Linked DNA regions of Homo sapiens: region 1 is linked to region 2. Evidence: fine-mapped expression QTL. A gene starts in region 2. The other region holds a variant in brackets. All regions are shown on one strand. Distances are from middle to middle.

Evidence for each region.
Region 1: its variant is fine-mapped to the expression of CAPN1-AS1 in whole blood (INTERVAL, PIP above 0.99).

The regions. Positions count from the first base shown.
Region 1 is chr11:65,135,144-65,152,067 of GRCh38, forward strand. It overlaps the pseudogene HIGD1AP10 and the pseudogene RNU2-23P. Among named protein-coding and RNA genes, the nearest start is that of SYVN1, 9.1 kb to the left of the region's middle. RefSeq lists enhancers at 1-18, 15,613-15,662 and a silencer at 1-55. The variant C/CTT (reference allele first, on the strand shown) is at 8,435.
Region 2 is chr11:65,172,298-65,186,023 of GRCh38, forward strand. It overlaps CAPN1-AS1 (CAPN1 antisense RNA 1), which reads right to left and starts at 9,537. Exons shown (of 2, transcript NR_145677.1): 1 at 8,928-9,537; 2 at 7,574-8,775. CAPN1 (calpain 1) reads left to right here and starts at 9,631. Exons shown (of 22, transcript NM_005186.4): 1 at 9,631-9,716; 2 at 10,404-10,671; 3 at 10,831-10,900; 4 at 11,177-11,295; 5 at 13,620-13,726. The coding sequence starts at 10,405. SPDYC (speedy/RINGO cell cycle regulator family member C) reads left to right here. Exons shown (of 7, transcript NM_001008778.3): 4 at 1-34; 5 at 137-308; 6 at 387-717; 7 at 886-1,077. The coding sequence ends at 920. It also overlaps the pseudogene PGAM1P8. RefSeq lists silencers at 8,950-9,399, 10,001-10,295 and enhancers at 9,318-10,107, 10,108-10,896, 10,897-11,686, 12,870-13,436.

The DNA.
Region 1 (16,924 bases), 36 kb before region 2:
GCAGGTGAGTGGTTGTTAGGGGCGGACAGCTGCGTTGCCTAGGCCCTGGTCCCGCTCCAGTTGGCTGAGAGTAGGGAAAGCTCAGTCCTTGGGCGAGTGATCCCTGGCTGGCCTCCGGGAACGTTTGCCGCGCCAGGACAGGGAGGGACAACCAGGTGTACCCGAGACTGGGAGATTAATTCCTGCTAATCTTGGGACGGAAGTGTTCTGTTTGTTCAAAGGAATTGACTTCAGCGTCGCAGGCCTGCCCGCATCTCAGTGTCTGATTTTGCTGCCCATGTGTTGTTCAGCTCTGAGCCATAAGCAAGACCCCCACTGGTCCTGGGCTGCACTGTATTTTAGTTCGTGTCTGGGTCGCAGCCAACTAAGCCTGCTGATTAACAAAATGGAGCTAATGCATCCACTTTGTGCCTTGCGTTTTCCTCCGTCATCTCATTTAATCATCAATCACTAAGGTTTATGAGCTAGGGGGTGCTACCCCCTCCCCCGAAACGTGGGGCAATTGAAATTCAAAGGCTTACCAAAACCTGTCCTAGGATTGGCGCCAGGTCTGTCTGCCTCTAAATCTCTGTGCTGTTGGTCTCAGCCATCTTCCCTGCCACCTGTTGACTTGACAGTTTCAGCTTATAACCAGTCAGAGTTGGCTTCCCCGTAAGGCCACGTATAACTTTTTTTCCCCCTTTTCTTTTTATTTATTTATTTATTAATTTTTGCGACAGGGTCTTGCTCTGTCGCCCAGGCTGGAGTGCATTGGCGCCATCAGGGCTCATTGCAGCCTCGACCTCCCGGGCTCAAGCGATCCTCCCACCTCAGCCCCACAAGGTGTTGGGATTACAGGCGTGAGCCACAACACCTTGCCTATCTGTAACTTTCTAGTGACTGCATCCAATGGTTGGCTTTCAGCCCTTGCTTGACTCAACCTCTCTCCCCTTCTTGAAAGTCTCCTCCCTAAGCTTCTGTGATCCACATGCCTCTGCTCCTCTTTTCTCTCTGGCTATGCATGTGTCCTCTTCTCTTTACCTGATGTCCTTCTCTTTACTTTTCCTGCATGATTTCCTCTGCTCCAGTCCAGCCCCTGACCCAGGTGCTGATGATTTCCTTGTGTGGTCTCCAGCCGGGATCTATCCTGCTTTTAAAACAGTTCAGTGTCCCTAGACACTGTCTGCACCCCAGCTCCGGAAACGGGCATCATGCTCACTATCTGCCCCCACATCCAAACTGGTAATTAAGTCATTTATTCAGTTAGTCTACAAATATGGATCAAGTGTCTCCTGTTCTAGGGACTTAGGATGTCAGTGAACAAAATAAAGATCTCTACCTTTGTGGAGCTTATCCTAGTAGATGTGACAGCAAACCACAGACATAAGTGAAAAATCTAATACGCTGGAAGATGATCAGTGCTATAGGAAAAAAGTAGAACAGAATAAAGGGGATCAGGATGTGGTGGGGTACTTGAAGCTGGTTGCAGTATCAGCGAGGATAATCGGGTAAGCTTCCTTGAGAAGGTGACATTTGAGCAAAGACTTAAAGGAAGTGAGGTTATGAGCCAAGTGGATGTCTGGGTAAAGAGTTACAGCTCAATAAAGGTGGAGCAGTGCTGCTTTGTTGAAGGAGATGAGTGTGGCTATAGTGGAACTAGTGAAGGGTGCGTAGGAAAGAGGCCAGGGCAAGATCGCATTGGCCATCACAGGGACCTTGGCTTTTCCTCTGAGTGACGTGAGAAGTCATTGGAGGGTGCTGAGCAGAGGTGTGACATGCTCTGACTTAGGTGTAATAAAGTCACTCCAGGCTGGGTGTGGTGGCTGACCCTGTAATCCCAGCACTTTGGGATGCCAAGGCGGTTGGATCACGAGGTGAGGAGATCGAGACCATCGTGGCTAACACGGTGAAACCCCGTCTCTGATAAAAAAACACAAAAATTGGCCGAGCTTGGTGGCGGGCGTCTGTAGTCCCAGCTACTCCGGAGGCTGATGCAGGAGAATGGCGTGAACCTGGGAGGCGGAGCTTGCAGTGAGCTGAGATCGTGCCACTGCACTCCAGCCTGGGCAACAGAGCGAGACTCAGTCTCAAAAAAAACTAAAAAAAAAAAAAAAAAAGTCACTCCAGCTCCTGTGTTGGAATAATCTGTAGTGGGGAGGAAGGCAAGTGTGGGAGCAGGGAAACCAGTTAGGAGGCTCTTGCGGTGCAATAGGCAAGAGAGGACATCCTGTGGGTTCTACCTCCTGAGTGTCTCTAGAATTCATTCTTTCCTTGCCATTTTCACTGCCAGTGTCCTAGTCCAGACCATCATCATCTCATGCCTGGGAAAATGCAACAGTCCCCTTTCCTGTGCTTTCCTCCTCATCCGTTTTCCATAGAACGGCCAGAGAGATCTCCTGACACCTGAGCTCACGTCTTGCCTTCCCTCCCACACTCTGCCCTTCAGGCATAATGCCCAGTTGTGGGGTCTCAGGTGTACCATCCCTACCATGCCCCAGGCAGGCCCATCACCTTTTGCATATGTCTTTCCTTCTCCCAGGAACGTCTTTCTCCTCAAATATCACAAAAAGCATTGCCTACTTCCTCAGGCTGGGGTGGAGTGCATGCCATCATGGCAGGCTAATTAAAAAGAATTTTTTTTGTAGCTACAAGGTCTTGCTATCAGGCCCAGGCTGCTTTTGAACTCCTGGGCTCAAGCGATCCTCCTGACTTGGCCTCCCAAAGTATTGGGATTACAGGCATGAGCCACCATGCCTCGACAAAAAGCAGTTGTACTTCTAAGTACTAACAATAAGCAATCAGAAATTGAAAATTTCAAAATACTATTTACATAGCTTCAAAAAATCAAATGTTTGGCCAGTCACGGTGGCTCACGCCTGTAATCCCAGCACTTTGGGAGGCTGAGGCGGGCAGATCACTTGAGGTCAGGAGTTTGAGACCAGCCTGGCCAACACGGTGAAACCCCTTCTCTACTAAAAATACAAAACTAGCCAGGCGTGGCCGGGCGTGGTGGCTCATGCCTATAATCCCAGCACTTTGGGAGGCTGAGGCGGGCGGATCATGAGGTCAAGAGATCGAGACCATCCTTGCTAACACGGTGAAACCCCGTCTCTACTAAAAATACCAAAAAAATTAGCCGGGCATGGTGGCAGGCGCCTGTAGTCCCAGCTACTTGGGAGGCTGAGGCAGGAGAATGGCGTGAATCCAGGAGGCAGAGCTGGCAGTGAGCCGAGACCGCACCACTATACTCCAGCCTCAGTGACAGAGCAAGACTCCATCTCAAAAAACAAAACAAAACAAAACAAAACAAAACAAAACACAAAACTAGCCGGGCGTGGTGGCATGCGCCTGTAATCCCAGCTACTCAGGAGGCTGAGGCAGGAGAATCACTTGAAACCAGAAGACAGAGGTTGCAGCGAGCTGAGATTGCGCCACTGCACTCCAGCCTGGGTGAAAGAATGAAACTCCATCTCAAAAAAAAAAGCAAATGTTTAATAATAAAATATAATCAAAGATGTGCAAGACCTGTACACTGAAAAGTATAAAACATTGCTGAAAGTAAAGATCCAATAAATGGAGAGATATACTATATCCATGGATCAGAGCACTCCATACTCCTATGATGTCAATTTCCCCCAAATTGATTTATAGGGTTAATGCCATTCCAATCAAAATCTCAGTAGGCATTTTTAAAAAATTGATGCTGATTCTAAAATATGTGAAAATTCAAAAGACCTATAATATCCAAGACAACCTTGCAAAGTATAAACAAAGTTGGAGAACTTATACTACCTGATTTTAAGACTTATTATAGGCTGGGCGTAGTGGCTCATGCCTATAATCCCAGCATTTTGGGAGGCTGATGTGGGCGGATCACCTGAGGTCAAGAGTTTGAGACCAGCCTGGCCAACATGGTAAAACCCTGTCTCTACTAAAAATACAAAAATTCGCTGGGCGTGTTGGTGCGCGCCTGTAATGCCAGCTACGCACCTCTAATCCTAGCTACGCGGGAGGGTGAGGCAGAAGAATCACTTGAACCCTGGGGGCAGAGGTTGCAGTGAGCCAAGATCCCACCATTGCACTCTAGCCTGGGTGATAAAATGAGACTCTGTCTCAAAAAAAAAAAATAAAAAAGACTACTATAAAGCTACAGTGATTAAGACAGTGTGGTTTTTGGTGTAAAGATACACATGTAGGTTAGTGAAACAGAATGCAGTCCGGAAATAGAATAACATTTATATTCATTTTCTTTTTTTTTTTTGAGACGGAATCTCGCTCTGTCGCCTAGGCTGGAGTGCAGTGGAACCATCTCCGCTCACTGCAAGCTCCGCCTCCCGAGTTCTCGCCATTCTCCTGCCTCAGCCTCCCGAGTAGCTGGGACTACAGGCGCCCACCACCACGCCTGGCAAATTTTTTGTATTTTTAGTAGAGACGGGGTTTCACCGTATTAGCCAGGATGGTCTCAATCTCCTGACCTCATGATCTGCCTGCCTCGGCCTCCCAAAGTGCTGGAATTACAGGCGTGAGCTACCGCGCCCCGCAATATATTGATTTTCAATATAGGTAACAAGGCAATTCAATGGTGAAAGATGATTTTTCTTTCTTTTTTTTTTTTTTTTTGAGACAGAGTCTTGCTCTGTCACCCAGGCTGGAGTGCAGTGGTGTGATTTTGGCTCACTGAAACCTCCACCTCCTGGGGTTCAAGCATTTCTCCTGCCTCAGCCTCCCAAGTAGCTGGGATTACAGGCGCGTGTCACCACACCCGGCTAATTTTTGTATTTTTAGTAGAAACGGGGTTTCACCATGTTTGTCAGGCTGATCTCGAACTCCTGACCTCAGGTGATTCGCCTGCCTCAGTCTCCCAAATTGCTGGGATTACAGGCATGAGCCACCATGCCCGGCCGAAAGATGATTTTTCAACAAAAGTGCTGAAATAATTGGATATCCATATGAAAACAAAAAACCTCATTCCCTACCTTGCATCGTATACAACACTTAACTTGAAATGAACCGTAGGTCTAAATGTAAAACATAAAACTGTAATATCTCTAGAAGAAAACAAAAAAATCTTAGTAATGTTGGGTTAGGCAAAAATGTCTTAAATAGGATACAAATAGCATAAACTATCAAAGAAACAAATTGATAAATTGGATTTAATCCTAACTAAACACTTTATCTGTTCAAATGACAGTTAAAGGGAGAAAAATTGGGAGAAAATATTTGCCAAGCGTATATCTGACAAAGGACTCATATTGAGAATACATATTATAACTTACTAATAAAAAAATGAAAAGCTAATACAAAATGGGCCAACATTTTGAGCAGACATTTAATCAAAGGTATTCAGATGAGAATAATCCCATAAAATGTGCTCAACACCATCATTATTAGATAAATTCATTGAAAGCAATGCCATACTATTAGTACTAGAATAGTTAAATTAAAAAGATGTCATACAAAGTGGTGGTAATGATGTGGAACACCTAGAATTATCTTAGATTGCAGGTGGGAATACAAAACGGTATAGCCATATTGAAAAAAGGTTCGGTAATTTCTTATAAAGTTAAGTATACATTTACCATATGACCCAGCAATTCCGTTCTTAAGTTACCCAAGATAAATGCAAATATATGTTCATAGAACTAGTGACAGAGAGCATCTCAAGTAGTTGCCAGGGACAGAGGCTAGGGGAGAGGACAGATTGCTCTATGGCACAAGCAAACTTTTTGGATAGTGGAAACATTCTCTATATCATGGTAGTGGTGGTAATTACCTGACTTATACATGTTTGTTAAAGCACACCAAATTGTGTAAGTGACTAATCTTATTGTATGTTAAAACTGGCAAATCTTATTGTATTAACATACAATTATATCTCAGTTAAGTTGACATAAAAGTTGTTGAAAGCAAACTTACATTTTGACCTGGATTTTCCCCTTTCAGGAATCTATCTTGTTGAAGAGCTTGTACATGACCCCAAAGATTTTAAGTCCAAGGATGATTGCCACAGCATTGTTTGAAATAGTGAAACAAGACAATAGAACCACATATCCATTAGGGAGAGAATGGTTAGGTCTGTCTTTTAAATTTTTATTTGTTCGTTTGTTTACTGTATTTTTTGTAGAGTCAGAGTCTTGCCATGTTGCGCAGGCTGGTCTCCAACTCCTGAGCTCAAGCAATCCTCTCAGCCTTGGCAACATAGTGAGACCCCCCTCCTACAAAAAATAAATTATCCAGGTGTGGTGGCTGTAGTCTCAGCTACTCAAGAGGCTGTGGTGGGAGGATTGCTCAAGCCCAGGAGTTCAAGGCTGCAGTGAGCTATGATCCTAAGATCATGCCACTGCACTCCAGCCAGAGTGACAGAGAGAGACCCTATCTCTAAAAGAAAGAAAAAGAAAAGAAAATGGTTAATAAGCACAAAAAAATATGTTAAACATCACTGGTCATTATGGAGATGTAAATCAAAACCATAGAGAGATGATTTCATACCCACTAAAATCATTGTGATAAAAAAAAGACCAACAATAACAAGTGTTGGCAAGATGTGGAGAAATTGGCACCCTTATGTGTTTCTGGTGGGAATGTAAAATAGTGTAAATGCTTTGGAAAACAGTTTGGCAGTTCTTCAGTAAATTAAACATAAAATTACCATATGACCCAGAAATTCTACTTCTAGGTATATGTTCAAGAGAACTGAAAGCATCTGGTCATACAAACACTTGTACAAGAACATTCGTAGCAGCATTATTCATAATAGCCAAAAAGTACAAACAACCCAAATGTCCATGAATGGCTAAACAAAATGTAATGTACCCACACAATGGAGTATTATTTAGCCATAAACAGGAAGGAAGTACTGCTTCATGCTACAACATTGATGAACCTTGAAAACCCTGTGCTCAGTGAAAAAAGCATTCATATCACTGCACTTACGTTACATGTCCAGAATAGACAAGTCCATACAGACAGAAGTAGTTAGTGGTTGCCAAGGGCTGGTGGCGTGAGGAATGGGGCCTGACTGCTAATTGGTATGGGGTTTATTATTTGAGGAGTGATAAAAATGTTCCTGAGGAGATAGTGGCTATGCTTGCACAATTTTGTGAGTATACTAAAAATGACCGAATTGTACACTTTATTTATTTTGAGACACAGTCTCGCTCTGTTGCGAAAGCTGTAGTGCAGTGGCGCGATCATGGCTCACTGCAGCCTGGAACTCCTGGGGTCAAGTGATCCTGCCACCTCAGCCTCCCAAGTGGCTGACATTACAGGCAAATGCCATCATGCCTGGCTAACTTTTTTATTTTTAGTAGAGACAGAGTCTCACTCTGTTGCCCAGGCTGGTTTTGAACTCCTGACCTCAAGTGATCCTTCCGCCTCAACCTCCCAAAATGCTGGGATTCAAATGTGAGCCACCACACCTGGCTGAATTGTACACTTTAAAATAATGAATTGTGGTATGTTAATTACATCAATAAAATAGGTAAGGAAGTAACAAAGACAAAATAGAAATTAAGAAAATAGAGGACAGGCGCAATGGCTCACGCCTGTAATCCCAGCACTTTAGGAGCCTGAGGCAGGCGAATCATGAGATCAGGAGTTTGAGAAGAGCCTGGCCAACATGGTGAAACCCTGTCTCTACTAAAAATACAAAAAATTAGCTGGGCGTGGTGGGGGGGCACCTGTAATCCCATCTACTTGGAAGGCTGAGGCAGGAGAATCACTTGAATCTGGGAGGCAGAGGTTGCAGTGACCTGAGATCGCGCCATTGTACTCCAGCCTGGGCAACAATGCGAGACTCTGTCTAAAAAAAAAAAAAAGAAAAGAAAAAAGAAAATAGATAAAGCTAAAATAGAATACACAAAGTTGAAAGCTGGCTCTTTGAATAAACTAATAAGAATGACAAATCTCCAGAGAGACTGGTCAAGAAAATAAGGTTTGCACAAGCAGACAATATAATGAATGAAAACAGCAATAAACAGACACAGCAGAAATTTAAAAATAATGAGCATGCAGTAGGTGCAATTTTATGGCAATAAATTTGAAAATTTAGGAGAAATAGACAATTTCCTAGAAAATAAAAGATGCACTAAAACTGACCTAAGACACAACAGAAAACATGAATTGATAAGTATTTTAAAATTTTATTTTATTTTTGAGATGGAGTCTTGCTCTGCCGCCCAGGCTGGAGTACAGTGGCGTGACCTCGGCTCACTGTAACCTCCACCTCCTGGGTTCAAGCGATTCTCCTGCCTCAGCCTCCCAAGTAGCTGGGACTACAGGCGCCTGCCACCACACACAGCTAATTTTTTGTATTTTTAGTAGAGACAGGGTTTCACCATGTTGGCCAGGATGGTCACCATGTTGGCCAGGATGGTCTCCATCTCTTGACCTCGTGATCCACCCGCCTCGGCCTCCCAAAGTGCTGGGATTACAGGTGTGAGCCACCATGCCCAGG[C/CTT]TTTTTTTTTTTTTTTTTTTTGAGACAGTGTCTTGCTCTATCACCCAAGCTGCTGGAATGCAGTGGCATGATCAGGGCTCGCTGCAGCCTCAAACTCCTGGGTTCAAGTGATCTTCCCACCTCAGCCCTGCAGAGTAGCTGGGACTACAGGCATGCGCCACTGTGCCTGGCTAATTTTTGTATTTTTTGTAGATATGGGGTTTTGCCATGTTACCCTGGCTGGTCTCAAACTCCTTGGCTCACGCGATCCACCTGCCTTGGCCTTGCAAAGTGTTGAGATTACAGTCATGAGCTGCTGCGTTCGGCTTAAAAGTTTTTCAACATTTTTGACAACAACATCTGGATTCTCACATTCTCCCTCCATGAAAGAGAAAATGAGGAACTATTCTCTCTCTTCCATGGTGGAACACTCCAGGTACTCCCAGCCTGGAAGGCCAGACCCTCCAACTTTCCCTGAATGACCCCCTCACCAAGAAGTGTGCATTGAATGTGGGACTGACCACACATGAGGTCAGTTTGTTGGTCTATCTAGACTGCCTTTGGACTTCCCTTGCCTCTGATCTCATTCCTTTAATTAACAAACATTTACTGAGGGCCTACTGTGTTCAGGCCCCAGGCCAGGTTCTGAGGACATTGTGGAGAACAAAATACATTCCCTGACCTCATGGAGCTTTCAGTCTCATGGTAGAGAGATCCACAAGCTAATTGCAGGTTATTTGACTGTCTGCTGAATGAATGCATTAGTGGAAGAATGAATGAGTAAAAGCTACATTGTCCAAATTCCTGTCCTGTCAGAATTGATGTTGACGTTCTTTTTTTTTTTTTTTTTTGAGATGGTCACTTACTTTAACAACAGTACATATACCATGTTATCACCATGAAATGTAAATTCAGGTTAGACAAGAAAATTTCACAAATGTAATAACATTCTATAGTTTATAAAAGTTTGGGTATACTGTCTGGCCAAACCAGCTTGCTCATAAGTCATTAATCAATTCCATTATAGGTAATTTGATTAGTTTAATGTTTGTAATTCTTATGGAAAAAATAAGCAATGCACACATTTAAAAAGTGCTCATTGGGCTGGGCACGGTAGCTCATGCCCGTAATCCCAGCACTTTGAGTGGCTGAGGCCCAGCGGATCACGAGGTCAAGATCGAGACCATCCTGGACAACATGGCGAAACCCTGTCTTTATTAAAAATATAAAAATTAGCCAAGGATGGTGGTGTGCACCTGTAGTCCCAGCTACTCAGGAGGCTGAGACAGGAGAAGTGCTTGAACCCGGGAGATGGAGGTTGCAGTGAGCTGAGATCACACCACTGCACTCCAGCCTGGTGACAGAGCGTGACTCCGTCTCAAAAAAAATAAAATAAAAGGTGCTCATTTACCTTTGCATGAGTGCTTAAATACATATTTCTATCTCAAGATGACATTTAAAAATTATTCAGATATAACAGCAGCAAAAATATAATTCTGCAATTACAAAATAACTAAACTAGAATCCATAAGTTATTCTCATGTTCACAACTGTGATTCTTTAATAAATACCACTACTATGCAGCTATAATGTAAGCTTTCTAGATTTGGTTTAAACACACACACATAGATACTGTCAGTTGTGGGAAGCTTTACAAGTTTTATTCCATGCACTTTTTAGACAGAGTTCTGAAAGAGCCAGCCAGTCCACAAGACAGGCAGAAAAAAAGTTAAATTAACTAGGGCAAATAGGACTCTTATATAACATCCGAAACATGTGAGATCCTGCAGCAAACTGGGAGTACTTCAGGGTTGGCTTGTTATATCCTTTAGAACTTAAGTTCATCTTCACAATTGAAGAAGGTGGACATTTCAACACCATCTAGTGCATTTAGGTGACATGTTTCTTTTATGCTAACTTGATTTCCTTGAATGACCTAGTTAGTAAACTAGTCACTAGTAATTAAGTCACCAGGCAAATCAAGCCTGCAAGAAAGGAAGCCAATATTCAAAATGCTGTGTTACCATCTAAACCCACTCAAATAGTTTATTTTCCACAATAACACATAACTTCAATAATGAGATGTCTAACTAAAGCAAGCTCCTCCAACAAGACCAAGACAGCATCTCTTCTTCTAGGGCTTAGGTTTTGCCCAGAATTCTCGATACATGGAATAGCCCATACCAATAGTCATTGCTCCTACAACAAAGCCTTGGGCTGCCACACGCATGTGGATCAGATGAAGGGACATTTGCGTATTTCCCCTGCTCTTCAATTTGTATAATCCATATGTAACAAGTGCTGCAAAACCTGCTATTCCAACGGGTACCAATGGTGTCTCTTTAGCTTTACGAATAAGTTTGGATCCCTGAGCTTCGTCATATGAAGAAAGGGAAACATCTGTGTCTGTTGATATAATGACTGCTTGAAGAATCTCCCGGCTGGGCGCGGTGGCTCATTCCTGTAATCCCAGCACTTTGGGAGGCTGAAGCGGGCGGATCACGAGGTCAGGAGATCGAGACCACCCTGGCCAACATGGTGAAACCCCGTCTCCACTAAAAATACAAAAATTAGCTGGGCATGGTGGTGCCGGCCTGTAGTCCCAGCTACTTGGCAGGCTGAAGCAGGAGAATAGCTTGAACCCAGGATGTGGAGGTTGCAGTGAGCCGAGATTGCACCATTGCACTCCAGCCTGGGCGACAGAGCGAGACTCCATCTCAAAAAAAAAAAAAGGAAGAAGAAGAAAACCTCTCACACCTGATGTCAACATTCTTTTAGTTAACATTTAACATGTTTTTCTTGAGTGCCAAGTATGTGACAGATTTAGAGCAAGGGTTTTTACAGGGCATACAATGTAACACCCTGTCTTTCCCTGACCAAGTTTAGTACCATCTGAAAAACAGACACATAGGATAGAGATAAAAATGTTACTTCTGTAACCAATAGAGTTGTTGAGAAAATGCATTTGAAGTCCCTGTACCCGTCCCAGAGCTGCACAGACTTACCCACTCTGCTCCCAAAGGTTTCTCCTTCTTTTGATGTAGGGTAGGCAAGCCCCCAAATTGGGGCTTAGCCCGGGAGGGTTCTTGGCTTTGTCCAGGAAATAATTCCAGGGTGAGCCAGTGCTGTTAGACAGACACTTTTAGTGAAGTGGCAGTGCACAGCAGCAGCAGATGTACTGTTCCTTGCACACCAGGGCTACCCCGAGTAGCAGCTCAGAGGTAGTTCTGCAGTCATATTTATACCCACTTTTAATTATATGCAAATTAAGGAGAAGATTATGCAGAAATTTCTAAAAATAAGGTGGTAACTTCTGAGTCGTTTGGTCATTAACACAGAAAGAGGCAGTAACTTCCAGGTGTTACCATGGCAATGGTAAACTGACATGGCACACTGGTGGGTGTGTCTTATGGAAAGCTGCCTCCACCCCATCCCTGTTTTAGCAAGTCCTCAATTTGGTCTGGTGTCCCAGCCCCACCTCCAGAATTGAGACCTGCCTCCTACCTCACTTTGGGTCCCATACATAGTTGCTTCTAACAACTTCACCAAGAAAACTCTCTTTTCTACTTCTTGGGAGGGGTGAGTGAGAGAAAGTGGGACAAGGCCACTTTTCTGCAGTGTTAGTTACTCCAGAAAAGGTCCACCATGTGGAAACAGATATAATGAGAAATAATCCTTAGTTTGTGTTAATCAAACCCAGTCAGTTATCCAACCAGTCAATTCCTCAATCCAAGCAGCATGAAACTGCACTCCTAGTTAGGTTTGTGGATTATAAATGCTCATAAATTCCTTATCCCGTCCCTCATGGAAAGGTGGGGTTTACTTCTCCACCCCCTTAATTCTGGACTTGGCCTATGACTTGCTTTGAACCAGTAGAATATGGTGGAAATGAAGCTGTGCCCAATTCTGGGCTTACCCTTTAAAACAGAACTGGCAGCTTCTGTTTTCTTCTCTTGGAATTCAGCCACCATGCTGTGAGGAAGCCCAAGCAGTCCTGTGGGGAGGCCCATGTAGAGGAGAATCAAAGCTCCATTCTCAGCCTTTTGGGTAAGATCAAGTGTAGTATCTGTTCTTATCAGTTTAATATCTGATATGTCCTCTATTCGAGGACACAATCTATATTAAATAGATTTTTGGAACTAAGAGATGGAATAGGAGCTTGCCCCACCCACTCCACACATTTACCTAGCATTGCAGTACCTCCAGGAACAGTGTACCCCTAAAGGGAGATAAAGTTTAAAAATGAAAAAAATAGGGAATAAAAAGCTCTAGCCCTACCATCCAATTGGCTGGGGGAATTTAAATAAATAAATAAATAAATAAATAAATAAATAAATAAATAGCTCTAGCCAGCATCAACTTGCCAGCCATTGGAGTGCACCATCTTTGAAGGGTCCTCCAGCTCCAAGGATGGAGCTGGAGGCACAAGAAGAGCTGTCTCAACCAGGCCTTGCCCAAATTGCATAATGGTAAGAAAATAAATGATTGGTATTGTCATAAGCCTCTAGGTTTGAGAGTGGCTTGTTTCACAGCCCTAATCTAATTTGACTCCCTGTTCTTGGCCCCAGACCCAGGGCCTGCCACAGAATAAGAACTCAGGGAGTGTTGAAGAAGTGAGTCAACAAATGATTGGGCTGAGCGTGGTGGCTCACGCCTGTAATCCCAGCACTTTGGGAGGCCGAGGCAGGTGGATCATCTGAGTGAGGTCAGGAGTTCAAGACCAGCCTGGCCAACAGGATGAAACCCCATATCTACTAGAAATATAAAAATTAGCCAGGTATGGTGATGCGTGCCTGTAATCCCAGCTACTCAGGAGGCTGAGGCAGAAGAATCACTTGAACCCAGGAAGTCGAGGTTGCAGTGAGCCAAGATAGCGCCACTGCACTCCAGCCTGGCTGACAGAGTTAGACTCTGTCTCAAAAAAAAAAAAAAAAAAAAAAAAAAAAAAAAAAAAAAAAAAAAAAAAAGACTGGATTGGCTAAGTGGATGATGGATGATTGAATGGTTGGATAAGTGAATTGTGTTAAGCCTGACAGGTCTAGAGTGATGAGCTGTGGCAGAATCAGGGGCTCAGAGTCCAGTAGCTTCAAGGAGGATGAGAAGCCATCTCTGCTGGAATTGTTATAAATAATTTCCTGGGAAGGGTCCCTGGCAGATCTACTTGGAGTGGCATTGTCACAGGCAGTGCATACTCAGCTGCTCAGGTGAGACACTAACTGCAAGCCCAGAATCTGGAAAGCTCCACAGTGCAGTGGGCCCAGCCTTACTATCCCTGCTGGAACCACACCAGCAGAAGGAGTGCCCGAGGGCTGCTACCTGTCTCCCTCGACTCCACTTAGTTCCAAATGTAAGTCTCACATGATTGAAACTGTGGAAGGAGGCTGGGTGCGGTTGCTCTCACCTATAATCCCTGCACTTTGGGAGGCCAAGGGGGCGGATCACCTGAAGTCGGGAGTTCAAGACCAGCCTGACCAACATGAAGAAACCCCATCTTTACTAAAAATAAAAAACTAGCCAGGCATGGTGGCACATGCCTGTAATCCCAGCTACTTGGGGGGCTGAGGCAGGAGAATCACTTGAACCCAGGAGACAGAGATTGCAGTGAGCCGAGATCACACCACTGCACCCCAGCCTGGGGAGCAAGAGTGAAACTCAGTCTTTTAAAAAAAAAAAAAAAACCAGAAGGAATATATGTAACTCAAGTTTTGTGTGGTTTTTTTTTTTTTTTTTTTTTTTTTTTTTTTTTTTTTTTTACCGTTCCAGCCTCTGTGGTCCAGGCAGCCAGCTGGGAGAAGGCTGAGACAGATGCTCAGTGACAAGTGTGAGCTTGCTAATCTGACAAAGGCCTTTCTAAGGGGGCATTTGGATTTCTGCATGATATGCTTCCAGCCTGCCTCCTAACCCCACCAAATCCTCATCATGCACTTTGTTATTTATTTATTTTTGAGACGGAGTCTCACTCTTGTCGACCACGCTAGAGTGCAGTGGTGTGATCTCGACTTACAACAACTTCCGCCTCCTGGGTTTAAGCAATTCTCCTGCCTCAGCCTCCTGAGTAGCTGGGATTACAGGCACCTGCCACCATGCCCAGTTAATTTTTGTATTTTTAGTAGAGATGGGATTTCATATGTTGGCCAGGCTGGTCTCGAACTCCTGACCTCAGGTGATCCACCCACCTCAGCCTCCCAAAGTCTGGGACTACAGGCATGAGCCACCTTACCCGGCCCTCATCATGCACTTTGTATTGTGGTCAAACTTAACTTGTCTCATTCCCCAAACTCTGCTTGCCTCTTCAGCCTAGCTATCTTCACTTTTGCTCAAACCTATATAAAGTAGCATGCTTTTCCCTTTCTTCTTTGTCTGGAAAATTCTTAGTGCACACCCTTACACATTTCCAGCATCAGCCATGAACCTGAGTGAGTCTCTCCCCACCACATGGTGCCTACAGCATTTGTCCCTGTGTGAACACAGCCCCTATGACCCTGCATTGTAATCACTTCTGTGTCTGTGACATCCTTCAGGGCAGGGCTGAGAATAATAAATGTTGGGCAGTTACAGTTTTAACCTTTATGTCAATCCTGAGTCAGGTACTATTATCATATCGGTTTCATAGATGAAGAAACTGAGGCTCAGAGAGATTAAGTAACTTGCCTGAGGTTTGCCCAACTAATAGGGAAAGACAAAGTCAAGATTTAAGCCCAGGTCGGGTGCGGTGCCTCACGCCTGTAATCCCGGCACTTTGAGAGGGCAAGGGTGGGGGGATCACCTGAGGTCGGGAGTTCGAGACCAGCCTGGGCAACATGGTGAAATCCCATCTCTACTAAAAATACAAAAATTAGCCAGGCATTGGGGGTGGGTGCCTGTAGTCCCAGCTACTCGGAAGGCTGAGGCATGAGAATTGCTTGAATCCAGGAGACGGAGGTTGCAGTGAGCCAAGACTGCGCTACTGCACTCCAGCCTGGGTGACGGAGCGAGATTCCTTCTCAAAAAAAAAAAAAAAAAAGACTTAAGCCCAGACAGGGTGGCCCCATGGCCCTTCTCTCAACCCCCGCGCTTTGTAACAGGTCCATTTTCTCATCCCCATGGCAACTAGTCATTTTATTACTGAGAAAACAGATATTCTTGAGGTTACAGAAAGGAAGAAAAATAAGAAAAGAAAACAGATGTTCGAAGAGGCTAAGAAAGTCAGCCAGAGTCACCCTGCTGGCGTGTGGCCGGGAGGCACTCTATCTACTTCTCTGACACTGCGCTGCACCTCCAGTGAGGGCCTGTGGTGACTTCTTCCTCCTATTGAAGCAGTGTCTCGGGGCTGAGTCATTCCCAACAGTTTCTGTGCAAAGCCAGGGAACAGCCACCTCAGGCCCCTTGGCAGGCTGCCACCCTAGGCAGTTGTCTCGAGTCTGGGTGTCCTCGGAGGGCAGAGCAGGGACAGGAGGCTGATGTCCCCTCCCTCTGCCAGGGCACGGGCAGCCAGGCAGTGAGGCCACATTAGGACTCAATTCAGGCTGGCCTGAGCATCTGAGAAAGGGAAGTAGGATAGAGGGGCAGGCTGGGGACAGATCCATGGGCAACATGGATCACCCAAGACTAGTACAAAGAAAGGGGCTGGGGCACTAAGGTACAGATTGGGCAATCAGCACACAGTATGTGCCAGGTGCAGGGCTGGGTGCTGGGATTCCAGGGTGAGCAAAAAGACACCTACCCTCATGAGACTCCTGCCCAGTGCAGGAAATTCAGGGCACATACCTTTTCTCCTACCGCTCACACCTGCTCCTCCTGCCTCCTCATTTTTCCTTCCAGCTAGAATGGGTGGAGTTTCCCTCTTCCCATTCATTCACTCTATTATTCACCCAAGTATTTATCCAGTGCCCACCTTGAACCAGGTCTTGTTCTAAGTGTCATGAATGTATTAGCAAATGAAATAGAAAAAAGTCCCTTCCCTTATGAAGCTTACAGAATACTAAAGACAAAAAATAAACCAGGAAGCACGTAGAGAAGTGTAGAGAAGTGATGACTTTGAGAAATCAAGAAGGAAGAGGAGTCGAGCAGAAGAGGAGGACCCAGAAGCTTTGAAAGGAAGAGAGAGGTTGGGCATGGTGGCTCATGCCTATGATTCTAGCACTTTGGGAGGCTGAGGTGGGAGGATCACCTGATCCCAGGAGTTTGAGACCAGCCTGGGCAACATAGTGAGACCCTATCTGTATAAAAAAATAAAAATAAAAAAGAAAGGAGGAGAAAGATGGCTGTTCCATTCTAGTAGGAGAGGAGGCAGAGAAAGTGTGTACAGGTGCAGATTCAGGTAAAATAGAGGAGAAGAAAAAGGGAAAGAGGCTGGGCGCAGTGGCTCACACCTGTAATCCCAGCATTTTGGGAGGCCAAGGGGGGTAGATTGCTTGAGCCCAGGAGTTCAAGACCAGCCTGGGCAACATGGCGAAACCCTGTCTCTACAAAAAATTAGCTGGGCTTGGTGGCACGCACCTGTGGTCCAAGTTATTCAGGAGGCTGAGGTGG
Region 2 (13,726 bases):
GCGAGTATACCCACAGCAGCCTGTTCTTGGCCCTGTGAGTGGTGGGGGCAGGCAGTGGAGGCATTTGCTGGAGGTGTCAGATGGGACAGGGCAGATGTGTGGCCTCTGCTCCCTGACCTTGTGCCTCTGTGGCTAGGTACCTTGCAAACGACATGGAGGAGGACCTGGAGGGCCCCAAATGTGAGATTTTTCCATGGGCCCTGGGAAAAGATTGGTGTTTACGAGTGGGGAAATTCCTGCACCAGAGGGATAAGCTTTGGGCACGGATGGGTTTCCGGGCTGTTGTGAGCCGCCAGTGCTGTGAGGAGGTGAGGCTGGGAGGCAACCTGGGGTGTGGGGAAGGCTGGGGTTCCCACCCCATTTACTGTCCACTCTGCTCCTCCCAGGTCATGGCAAAGGAGCCATTCCACTGGGCTTGGACTCGGGACCGGCGCCCCCACCATGGTGGGGTTCAGAGGGTCTGTCCACAGGTCCCTGTTCGCCTTCCCCGGGGCCCTGGCCTCTCGCCGCCCCACTGTTCCCCCTGTGGTTTGCCCCAGCACTGCAGCAGCCACTTGCTTAAGCCTGTGTCATCCAAGTGCCCTTCTCTGACCTCTGAATGTCATCGCCCTCCCTCCCAAAATTATCTCTCAAGGGTCAAAAACGCCTGGGGTGGGGACTTTCTCATCGTCTTGCCTCCCCAGATGCAACTGGAACCAGGCACCTACTCCCTCCGCAGTGAGTGCAGGATGGGACAGGAGCTGGGGGCTGGTGTGGGAGCTTGGGAGGCAGGAGTGAGGACCAACAATATGAGAGAGAGGGCCATGGGCCTGGGGTCGACGTGCTGCCCCTCCCGTGTGAGCTTGGCAGGTTTCTTCTCTGAGCCTCACTCTTTCCTCTCCCCAGTCTTCCCAAAGCCTCCGGCACGCCCTGGGCACTGAAGCTCTGCAGGGTGAAGAACAGCACGCCTGCTGGCCCACTGACTGACACACCATTGGCTGTGCTCCCACCCCTGCCCCTTCCTCCCAGCCTGCAGCTTGTGCCCACTCTGGTGCCAGTCCCCTCTAATAAATTCATGTCCACAGGACACCAACTGTGCTTAGGTCCTGGCCTGGTTCCTTGACCCAAGGTTGGGGTGGGGAGGGGGTATCTACCAGGGTTACAACATGTGAGCACAGGCTCTGTAACAGCTTGGCCCCTTCCCATTGGTGGCCAGTTATTCTGAGCCTCAGTTTCATCTCTGTGCTATCCATGCCTATGGATGATGAGATCTACACAGTCTAGATGGGATTAAATGAGATGAGGTATCTGCAGCCCTTAGAAGAGGGCCAGGGAGCCGAACGTGGTGGCTCACACCTGTAATCCCAGCACTTTGGGAGGCTGAGCCGGGTGGATCACTTGAGGTCAGGAGTTCAAAAACAGCCTGGCCAACATGGTGAAACCCCTTTGCTACTAAAAATACAGAAACTAGCCAGGCATGGTGGCAGGTGCCTATAATCCCAGCTACTCGGGACGCCAAGGTGGGAGAATTGCTTGAACTGTGGAGGCGGAGGTTACAGCGAGTTGAGATCATGCCACTGCACTCCAGCCTGGACGACAGAGTGAGACTCTGTCTCAAAAAAAAAAAAAAAAAAGGCCAGGAACATATTGGGAAACAAAACTTGAATGGAAGACAGCTCTTTATTTAGTCTAGAAATGCCTTCAGGGCCAGGTTTACTTAGGAATAAGACTTGATCCCTTCCTTGAGCTACAGTCAAATATAATATTGTAATTATAATAAACAACCCCCCTCCCCCAAGAGACATGAGGACTCAAAAGGGTTAATTTCTTTTTTTCTTTCTTTTTTTTTTTTTTCACATCACTCCTTTATTATACTGATCTGGAAAAAGATTTAGTACAGTTATGCTCAGATGAACACTGGACCCATGTGGCAGGGCCAAGCAAGTAGAACATGATTCAGAAATCAGTGAAAGACATACTTGGACAGGACCAAGAGGCATTTCACTGTCACGAAACAAGGCAGGAAGGGATTGTAATACCCACACCAGGAAGCACTCCTGCCCCTCAGAGGTCAAGGAGCTGATCCTATATTGGTATGAGGAATGGCTTATTTTCTGATGACTACATGTGGGACTATTTCAACCGCCACGAGAAACCCCAGAAGGGTTATTGTTTTGTATTATTTATATATACTATACTTCTTAAATTAAATGTAACACATAACTAAATTCAGGATTGATCCCAACCTTCTAGAGCCAGCTCCTCTGGCGTCAGGGAGGAAACAGTTGTCACATCACCATGCAGGTTACATTCATCTTCCACTGGAATGACTAGAGCCCTCAGGCAGTGGCCTGACTGCAGACGAGCAGAGGACTGGCTCCTGGGGACAGACAGGCTCTGTTGCTTCTCCTCATTGGTCATGGCTTAGCATGGTTCCTCCCCACAAGTCCTTAGTAAACAAAGCAACTCGCAAAAACCCAAGTCACTACTTTTAAACTCTGTTGGATAAGGGGAGCTTTTCCACAGCTTGGACTGAGAACCTGTGCTCTAGAAGTGCTATTCTGACTAGATTGTATGAAGGGAGTGGGTGCAGGAGACAAAATGGCTAAAATGAAAATGGGAGTCACTGGTCCCCATCTGCAGCTACAACTCAAGATGTCTACAGATGGGGTCAGTGTGACATGTGCAGGTGGGAGGGGCAGAGGGACAAGACAGGCAGGGAGGGTGCTCCTGGGAACAGTATCCTCCCTGCTGGCCTTCACTTCTTGGCCTTGCCCTGGGCAGCCACAGCTTCCATGGCTTTGCGTACCATCTCTTCATCCCCCAGAAACTGCATGGGCTTGATAGGCTTCAAGTTCTTGTCCCATTCATAGACAATGGGAATACCAGTCGGCAGGTTCAGCTCCATGATAGCCTCTTCAGAGAGACCCTCCAGATGCTTGGCAATGCCCCGGAGGCTGTTGCCATGGGCTGCAATCAGTACACGTTTCCCCTCCTTGATCTGGGGAACTATTTCTTCATTCCAGAAGGTCAGAGCTCTGGCAATAGTGTCCTTCAGACTCTCACAGGAGGGTAGCAGATCTTCTGTGAGGTCTGCATACCTGCGATCCTTACTGATGTTGCTATAGAAAGGATGGTTGGGCTCCATTGGAGGTGGTGGGACATCATAGGAGTGCCTCCAGATCTTCACCTGGGCCTCACCATGCTTTGCAGCAACCTCCGCCTCCCTGGTTCAAGCGATTCTCCTGCCTCAGCCTCCTGAGTAGCTGGGATTACAGATGTGCGTCACCACGCCCGGCTAATTTTTTTTTTGTATTTTTAGTAGCAACGGGGTTTCATCATGTTGGTCAGGCTGATCTTGACCTCCTGACCTCGTGATCTGCCTGCCTCGGCCTCCCAAAGTGCTGGGATTACAGGCGTGAGCCACCGCACCCAGCCGTGAGGTGCCAGATTTTTATCTTTGCCAAACTGCTAAGTGGGAAACAGTCTCTTGGTGAAATTTTAATTCACATTTGCTTTTCAGTGAGCTCAACATCTTGTCATATGTTTAAGACCTATTTGTCTTCTTTTATTTGTGAACTTTTTTTTTTTGAGACAGGGTCTTGCTTTGTCATCCAGGCTGGAATACAGTGGTGCGATCACAGCTCACTGCAGCCTCGACCTCTGGGATAGCTGGGACTACAGGCCACCATGCCCAGCTAACTTTTTGTATTTTTGGTACAGACAGGGTCTCACCGTATTGTCCAGGCTGATCTCGAACTCCTGGGCTTAAGCGATCCACCCACTTTGGCCTCCCAAAGTGCTGGGATTTACTTTTATTTTATTCTTAGAGACAGCATCTTGCTCTATTGCCCAGGCTGGAGGGAAGTGGCACAATCATAGCTCACTGCAGCCTCCAACTGCTGGGCTCAAGCCACCCTCCCATCTCAGCCTCTGGAGTAGCTGGGATGACAGGCATGCACCACCACACCTGGCTAATTTTCTAATTTTTTTATAGATGGGGTCTCATTATGTTGCCCAGGCTAGTCTCAAACTCCTAGCCTCAATCAATCCTCCTGTCTAGGCCTCCCAAAGTGTTAGGATTATAGGAATGAGCGACCACACCCAGAACATGATTTTTTATATATGTATATGGAGAAAAATACTCCTTTAAGATGTTAATTGTAAATGTTTTCTTCAGTCCATCATTTTGACATAACTGTATGGATTTTTAATGTAGTAAAAAATGCAATTTTATGACTTTTGGGTTTTGTGTCATAGTTAAAAAGACTGTTTCCACACTGAGATGATACAAAAAGTTTCTCCTTTAGCTCCTGGCTGTATTTTTTTTTTTTTTTTTTTGAGATGGAGTTTTGCTCTTGTTGCCCAGGCTGGAGTGCAATGGTGCGATCTCCACTCACCGCAACCTCCGCCTCCATCTCCCGGGTTCAAGCAATTCTTGTGCCTCAGTCTCCCAAGTAGCTGGGATTGCTGGTGTGTGCCACCATGCCCAGCTGATTTTTGTATATTTAGTAGAGATAGGGTTTCACGATGTTGGCCAGGCTGGTCTTGAACACCTGACCTCAAGTGATCCACCCACCTCAGCCTCCCAAAGTGCTAGGATTACAGGCATGAGCCACCGTGCCCAGCCAGCTTCTGGCTGTATTTTCGTTTTCATTTTTGTACGTTTAAATATTGAAGGTTAACATTTAATTTTTATTTTTATTTATTTATTTTTTTTGAGACGTTGTCTCACTCTGTCGCCGAGGCTGGAGTGCAGTGGCGCAATCTTGGCTCACTGCAAGCTCTGCCTCCTGGGTTCACGCCATTCTCCTGCCTCAGCCTCCCAAGTGGCTGGGACTACAGGCGCCCGCCACCACGCCCGGCTAATTCGTTTTGTATTTTTAGTAGAGATGGGGTTTCACCGTGTTAGCCAGGATGGTCTTGATCTCCTGACCTCGTGATCCACCTGCCTCAGCCTCCCAAAGTGCTGGGATTACAGGCATGAACCACCGCGCCTGGCCTATTTTTTATTGATTTTTTAGAGATGGAGTCTTGCTTTGTTGCCCAGGCTAGAGTGCAGCGGTGCTCACTGAGGCCTTGAACCCCTAGGCTCAAGAGAGCCTCCCACCTCAGGCTCCGAAAATGCTGGGATTACAGGTGGTGTGAGATACCACACCAGACCTAGAGTTTTTATTTTTTAATTTTTAAAAAAATTTTTATTTATTTTTTTGAGACGGAGTCTCACTCTTTTGCTCAGGCTGGAGTGAAGTGGTGCAATCTCGGCTCACTGCAACCTCCGCCCCCTGGGTTCAAACAATTCTCCTGCCTCAGCCTCCCGAGTAGCTGGGATTACAAACGCCTGCCACCCACCATGCCCAGCTTTTTTTTTTTTTTTTTTTGTATTTTTAGTAGAGACGAGGTTTCACCATATTGGCCGGGCTGGTCGTGAACTCCTGACCTCAGGTGATCCATCTACCTTGGCCTCCCAAAGTGCTAGGATTACAGGTGTTAGCCACCACACCCAGCCTTTTTAAATGTTTTTTTCATTAGGAACAACATATTCCAAACCTATAAATTGAGTTCATCTGTAATTTTTTCTAAGATACAAATTATGAATCCAACTTACTTTTTTTCCAGATTGCTCCCTTTTCTTCCTAATGTCTTTTATTAACTCATCTTTTCTCAACAGATTAGAAATGGTACTTTTATCATCTACTACATTCCTGCCTGTATTTGAATCTGTTTCTAAATTTCTCTGTCTTCTATTGATCTCTATGTGTCAGTAACCCTCTTTAATTATTACCTTTTAATGATAGATTTGTTGTGTTTTAATATCTGGTAGGATTAGTCTATACTCATTATGTCTTTTATTTTCAGAAGTTTCCTACTTGTTTAATTTGCCATATGACCTTTAAATCAGCTTTTCTAGTCCCTCCTTATCTCCCACCAGAAGACTCTTAAAATTTTTCATTGTGATACACTTAGAGATTAATTTAAGGAGAATTGACATCTATATGAAGCATCTTCATATGAAGACCAAGGTGTCAGCCCCCTTGCCTCTGCTTTTTGGTGGCTAGTGACTCCCAAATTTGTACCTCTATTTTGAGCACAAGGTCTGTTCCTCACCCCTAGGAATCTCCTCTTGGATAGGGGGATCCCAAAGATACCCCATACCCTGATCCCATACTGTCCCTCCAGCTTAGTGCATTCCCCCTTCTCTTTAATCTACTCAGGTGCTCAAGCCAGATCCAGGGTCTGAAGTTGTCTTTGGTCTCTCCTGGTGTCCAAGAGCCATATCTAACCAGTGACTAAGTTCTATTTTTTTTTTTTTTTTGAGACGGAGTTTTGCTCTTGTCGCCCAGGCTGGAGTGCAATGGTGTGATCTTGGCTCACTGCAACCTCCATCTCCTGGGTTCAAGTGATTCTCCTACCTCAGCCTCCCTAGTAGTGGGGACTACAGGAGCCCACCACCACGTCCAGCTAATTTTTGTATTTTTTAGTAGAGACAGGGTTTCGCCATATTGGCCAGGCTCGTCTCTCGAACTCCTGACCTTATGTGATCCGCCCACCTCAGCCTCCTAAAGTGCTGGGATTACAGGGGTGAGCCACTGCGCTCAGCCTGTGGTATATTTGTAATCACTGATGAACCAATATTGACACAATATTATTAATTCAAGTCCATAGTTTACATTAAGGTTCACTCTTAGTGTTGTACATTCTGCAGGTTTGGATAAATGCATGTCATGCATCCGTCATTACAGTATCATACAGAATAGTTTCGCTGTGCTAAAAATGCCCTGTGCTCCATCCCTCTCCTACCCCTCTGAATCCCTGGCAACTGCTGATCTTTTTACCATTGCTAGTTTTGCCTTTTCTAGAACGTCATATAGAGTTATTGGAATCATACAGTATGCAGCTTTTTAATACCAGCCTCTTTTACTTAGCAATATGCGTTTAAGGTTATGCTATGTCTTTTTGTAGCTTGATGGCTGATTTCTTTGTATCGCTAAATTTTAAAGAAATTGCCAAACTGTCTTCCAAAGTGGTGGTGATCATTTTACCCTCTCTTGGTGTATGACAGCTCCAGTTCTTCTATATCCTTGACAACATAACAACACTTGGTATGGTTGATCTTAACTTTTAGCCATTCTAGTAGGTGTTCTTTTAGAAGCAGTCCTTCTAGTGGCTTTAATTTGCATTTCCCTAAGAGTAATGCACTCAGTGTTTTTTAATGTGCCTATTTGCCATCCAGAGATCTTTTTGGATGAAGTGTCTGTTCAAATGTTTTGTCCATTTTTTGACAGGCGCGGTGGCTCACCCTGTAATCCCAGCACCTTGGGAGGCAGAGGCGTGCAGATCACTTGAGGTCAGGAGTTTGAGACCAGCTTGGCTAACATGGTGAAACCCTGTCTCTACTAAAAATACAAAAATTAGCCTGGTGTGGTGGCGGGCGCCTGTAATCCCAGCTACTGGGGAGGCTGAGGCAGGAGAATTGCTTGAACCCAGGAGGTGGAGGTTGCAGTGAGCCAGGATCGCGCCACTGCATTCCAACCTGGGTGATGGAGCGGGACTCCATCTCAAAAACAAAAACAAACACCAGAAAACAAACAAATGTTTTGTCCATTTTTATTGGATTTTTATTCAATTGTAAAAGTTCTTTATACAAGTCCTACATCAGATAGAATTTTTACAAATATTCGTCCTAGTCTATGGCTTATCTTTTCATTTTTAATAGTTTCGTGCATTTTGAGAAACAAAAGCGTTTTATTTTGATGAAGTTCAATTTATTGATTTCTTCTATCATTTACACTTTTTGTGTCATATTTAAGAAATCTGGCCAGGTGCCAAAGCTCACACCTGTAATCCCAGCACTTTGGGAGGCTCAGGCAGGAGGACTGCTTGAGCCCAGGAGTTCATGACCAGCCTGAGTAACACAGCAGGACCCCATTTCTACAAAAAATTTAAAAATTAGCTGTGTGTCGTGGCACGTGCCTGTAGTCTCAGCTACTCAGGAGGCTGAGGTGAGAGGATCTCTTGAGCCCAGGAGTTTAAAGTTACAGTGAGCTGTGATCAGGGCACTGCACTCCTGCCTGGTCAATGAAAGCAAGACCCTGCCTTTAGAAAAGAAAAAAGAAATCTTTTCAAACCCAATATTGTTAAGATTGTCTCCATTTTTAAAAAAAAAAGTTTTATGGTTTGGCCATTTATATTTAGGTGTGTAATCCAGTTTGAGTTAAATTTTGATGGTGTATCCTAAATAGTTATCAAATCCATCTACTTCTGCCTGCCACCTCTCTAGTTTAAACCACCCTTCTCTGTCCCTGGACACCTGCGCAGAAAGCCTAGGAGCTGGTTCCACCCATCACTCACCAGGTTAGGTATTTCAGGCAAGTCACACCCTCTCAGGCCTCAGTTTTCCTCTTTTGTTAACTGAGGGTGAAAGTGGGGTTAGATTAGATCAGCGGCTCTTAACTTTTGAGGGGTCGTGGGCCCTAGAGTCCTGGGAACGCTATGCAGTTTCCTCAGCAAAATGCTTGCATCCACAACATGCAAGACTGCAGCAGCTGCTGGGCTGGGGCTGCGAGACCAGCGAAAAGCCCTGACTTGGGGGGGTCTCGGGAGTCTCTGCAGTCTCCCCACCCACACCCCCGGCCTCCGCGCCGAATCCTGGCCCCCCAACTTCTTGCAGCCCGTGAAGCAGGATCTCAGGGTCCTGGGGGTGGGGAGAGGGGGCTGCCGTCCTGCTCGCAGCCTCTGCCGCCCTCTCCTGGGTAAGGTGACACATGGGCGCTTCCAGGTGGGTGGGCTGAGAGCCTGGGGGAGAGAACAGGGATGTCCACCTCTCTAAGTTTCCAGGTTCAAGAAACCCCAGAACGTTAGAGAAAGATGGGCTCCCACAATTGCCCAACCCCATCCCATAGGATGCACGCATGCGGAAAGTCGGGCCGAACGGGGCAGGGACTTACCCAAGGTCACGCAGCGAGCCCGGTCCCCCTGCGTTCCCCGGGGAGCGCTGAGCCGGGACGCGGCGGTGGGGTGGGGAAGGGGAGTGGCGCGGCCCTGCGGGGTGAGGCTGCCGTTTGCTGAGTGTCCGGCAGGGGTCTGCTCGCTGCCAGCCCGGCCCCTCCTCAGAGCAGCTGCCGCAGCCCGAGGTAATCTCGGCCCCGCGCCGGGGCTGGCTGGGAACGGCGGGAGCAGCTGCGGTCGCGCGGAGCGAGGGGAGCTGGGGACCGGGCGGGCCCGGGGCTGCGGGAGGCGGCGCCGCCGCACAATCGCCCCGGAATGCCCGCCAGGGCGCGCGTGGGGTGCGGCCGTCCGGCCCTGCAACTCGAGCTGCTGCCCCTGGTTAAAAATACCCCCTGCCCGGCCCTCCCCCTCCGTTCCCCGCGGTGCCCTTCCGCCGCGCCCCAGCCCCCCCATCCCCCCCCGCGCTGGCCCCTCCCCGGGGACTGCTCTGCCTTTTACTAATTTGTCCTCTCGCGGAATTGGCCCCCGGCCTGCGGAGGGAGGGGCGGGGAGACACCGTGAGTAAGAGATAGTCAGAGACCGTGCCGGAGAGATAAGGGAGAGCCGAGAGGAAGCGGGGTAGGAGCCCCAGGAGGAGGAGGAGGAGAAGGAGAGAGGGAGGGCGGAGGGCGGAGGGGCGGCGGGAGGAGGGCGGGGAGGAGCGCTCTTCCTGGTTGGGCCCTGCCCTGAGCTGCCACCGGGAAGCCAGCCTCAGGGACTGCAGCGACCCCCAAACACCCCTCCCCCAGGTAAGAAGCTGGGTAGCCGAGCCGGGATTCCTTGACCCTGGCCACTGCTCCTGGGCTGAGGGGCTGCCCCAGCACGGTCCCTTCTCGGGGGCCTCTGCGTTCCTGGAGCAGGGGTGGGGGCTGGCGGAGCGGCACAGCCCAGGCGCCTGTCCCAGCCTGGCTCACCGCTGTCCCCAGGGGCTGGGCTAGGGCCCACCAGCTCTGATATCGAGCCTGCTGCGGGGGCCTGAGGAGGGGGACCCCGACCGTCTGGGGTTTTCAGCCCACGGCAAGGGGCCGGTGCACCAGGAGCTTGGTTAGTTTGGGGAGGGGGTTGCAGGCCTGTGAACAGGATCAAAGAGGCCTTCCCTGCTGTGTCCCACCTGCCCAGTTCCTTGTGCTGTCTGGAGGCTCCGCCCTGCCCCACCTGACCTGCTGGCTCACTACAGAGCTGCAAGCCCCTGACAATGGGATCCGGGAAAGGAGAGGTGGCCGGCACGCCTGGGAACTGGGAAATCCCTTTCCTGGATTCACTGGGAGCACCGGGAGGTGGCTGAGAACCCTACTTCTGTGAGGGGAGCAGTGAGGCAGGGAAACCCTAGGTTTGGGGATGGATAAGCAGGGGCAGGAGAGCAGAGCTTGCAGGCAGGAGCCCAGGTTCTAGTCTTGGGAAGGCCTGGGTTCTGAGCAGGCCCATCTGTCCGGCAGGATGTCGGAGGAGATCATCACGCCGGTGTACTGCACTGGGGTGTCAGCCCAAGTGCAGAAGCAGCGGGCCAGGGAGCTGGGCCTGGGCCGCCATGAGAATGCCATCAAGTACCTGGGCCAGGATTATGAGCAGCTGCGGGTGCGATGCCTGCAGAGTGGGACCCTCTTCCGTGATGAGGCCTTCCCCCCGGTACCCCAGAGCCTGGGTTACAAGGACCTGGGTCCCAATTCCTCCAAGACCTATGGCATCAAGTGGAAGCGTCCCACGGTGAGAGGGGCCATCCTGGGTGGGACTCGGCTAAGCCAGATCCTGGATGAGGAGTAGGGATGGGACTCCATGTCCCTGGTGGGGAATGGGGTCTGGGGTGGCCTGGTGCCAATTTCTGGGAGGGGCTGGCCGAGGAACAGGACTCTGGGTCTCTCGTAGGAACTGCTGTCAAACCCCCAGTTCATTGTGGATGGAGCTACCCGCACAGACATCTGCCAGGGAGCACTGGGTAGGCCCCCAGGGCGTCGGGTCCCGGGTATTTTTTCCACAGTAGTTCCCCATTCCCGCTCCTTCAGGCTCTGCCCCAACCCCTCCCTCTTGCAAGCCCAGGCAGGATCTGGCTATCAGCGCTGGGGCTGGTTTGCCCAGATTCCTGGGTCTTTTCTGCAAGCTGAGGGGAGTTAAGTGGCACCCTGGCCAAGGAACCCCAGATTCTCCCTAGCACCCGCTTCCCCCCCCGGGGCAGGTTGGTAGAGCAGGCTAATGTGCATCCCTCCTGCCCCAGGGGACTGCTGGCTCTTGGCGGCCATCGCCTCCCTCACTCTCAACGACACCCTCCTGCACCGAGTGGTTCCGCACGGCCAGAGCTTCCAGAATGGCTATGCCGGCATCTTCCATTTCCAGGTGAGGGCTCCCCTGGGGAGGAGGGGCAGCAGGCACTGGGGGAGATGCGGAAGGATGACCCACAATACCTGCAGTTAGGGCCACACCCTGTGGGGCCAGCCCTCCCTCTAGCAGGTATTTGACCTCTCAGTGCCATCTCGGGTCTGTCATGTGTGAAGTGACTGGGCTGGGCAGGTATTTCGGCTGGCAGTTTTCCTAGGTGGTTGTATGTATCAGGTGGAAAGTGCTTGAAAGAACAGAAAGACTTTTGTGTTATATCCTGTGGGACAAATTCCACTCCTCCCGGAGGTCGGTCTCAGTTGCCCCATCTGAGAAAGGAGTGTTCGCTGGGGAAAACAGATCAGCACGTGTGGCCTTCTCCACGTGTCAAGCCTCCTATCCCCCAACTCCTCCTGCGCTTTGGCAAGGTCTGACTGAGCCCAGCAGAAAAGAAAGACTCGGGATTAAGTCTACGTAAACCAGCTTTTCCTGACGGTGTGCCCAGGGCCCATTTTTCAAGTCACACCAATCAATTCTCAATGAGCTGCCTTTGGGAGGGACATGCCCAGCAACCCTGGATGAGACTCTCCAGCCTTGGAGGCCCCAGCCCTGCCCGAAGGACTCTTGGGTGTTCCCTCCTTCTGCCTGGTTAGAGAGCCCCTTACCCTACTCTGTCCTTGCCCGCCTTGCGCGGGTGGAGGTGGCCCTCGGAACCCAGGGTGCGGAACCCACAGTGCGGATCCACTTTGGCCCAGCGCCACACCCACCTGCTCCAGTCTGCAGGGGCGCAGTCTCGCCCCCTTCCCTCGCTCCTCCAATCCGCTCCTCCCTGGCCTCCGATTGGCCAGTTCAGTACCCGCCACCCACACTCTCCGCAACCTGGGCTCCTAGGGCCGCCTCCACCCCGCCCCGCCCCCCGTTGTCCTGGCCCCGACCCCTCAGATGGTACCTCGAGTCCTTGGTCGCTTCTGACCCCAGACGCCTTCGGCCCCGACCCTGCCCTGGGAAACGTGGCCTTTGTGGCATCTCAGAAACAAAGCCCGTGATTGTGAGAACCAGTCCTGCCCATCTTGTGGTTGTAGGATCTGGATGCCACATTTTCACTGCTCATCCAATGACACAGGTGCCCCTAACCCCCTTGAATAGGGAGGGAAGAGCCAGGGGGCCATGGCCTAAAAGGGGGCTAGTTCCGGAAAGCCCAGGCCCCAGAGCTTTTCCACCTCTCCGTGCCTGAGGAGGAACCCTGTTTGTTCAGTGACTCCCTAAAGGCTTTGCCTGTGCTCTTGTTTAAGTCTTCCGTGAAGAAGGCACCGCTGCTCCTTTTTATGGATAGGGAAACTGAGGCTCAGAGGCGATAACTTTTCCAGGATCATGTAGCTAGTATGTCTCGAGCATACATGTACATATCAAGTATACACATGTCTATATGTGGTATGCATGTATTAGTATACAGCAAATATGCAGGTATCTAGTATACATTGTACAGGCAAAGGAAAGCATCCCCTTAGCCCTCTGAAGGTTCACTGAAAAATCAACTCACAAAAGGAGGTTAGTAGGAGAAATGGCATACAAATTGATTAGCCTGCAGCGTGGGGTCGGGAACCACAGAGTGTTCACCCCAGCCCCACAATGGGTACAGAAGCCTATATACCATCCTGAGGTTACAGGAAGAATGGGGGCTCGAACATGGCCAAAACCAGTTTCTGGTGGTAAATCAGGTTATAGTGGCAAGACAGACTATGGAAGGGGGAGAAAAGGGGGCCTGGGTAGCAAAGGCAGTCTTGTTATGTAGATGAAACCTCACAGGTAGCAGCCCTCAGAGGGAATAGATGGTAATTGTTTCGTTCAGACCTTTAAAGGGTGTCAGGCTCTCAGTCTGACAAGGGAAGGCCTTAGAGAAAGCCTGGCTACATCAATGCAGATTTTCTCTACAGATGCAAATCTCCCCCACAAAAGACAGTATTACAGGGCTACTTCTGTTTGCAGACCCTCTGAACAGCTATCTCAAAATATGTTGAAGAAGTATATTTCAGGGTGAAATACTTTGATTTCCTTCAATACCTAGATACATGTATCTAGTATATCTGTAGCATACATGTATCTAGAGGTACACATGCATCTAGTATGTATCTAGTATATGTGATTTAGTATACATGCATCTACTATGTATCTGGTATACCTGACCTAGTATACATCTAGTATGTATCTAATTTACATGATTTAGTCTATGTGTATCTAGTATGTATCTGGGATGTAGAATCCTGCATCTAGGAAGGTAGGGGTAAGGATGGAGCTCAGGTCCGGGGGATTCCAAAGCAGGTACTCACCGTGCCCCTCCCCCACAGCTGTGGCAATTTGGGGAGTGGGTGGACGTGGTCGTGGATGACCTGCTGCCCATCAAGGACGGGAAGCTAGTGTTCGTGCACTCTGCCGAAGGCAACGAGTTCTGGAG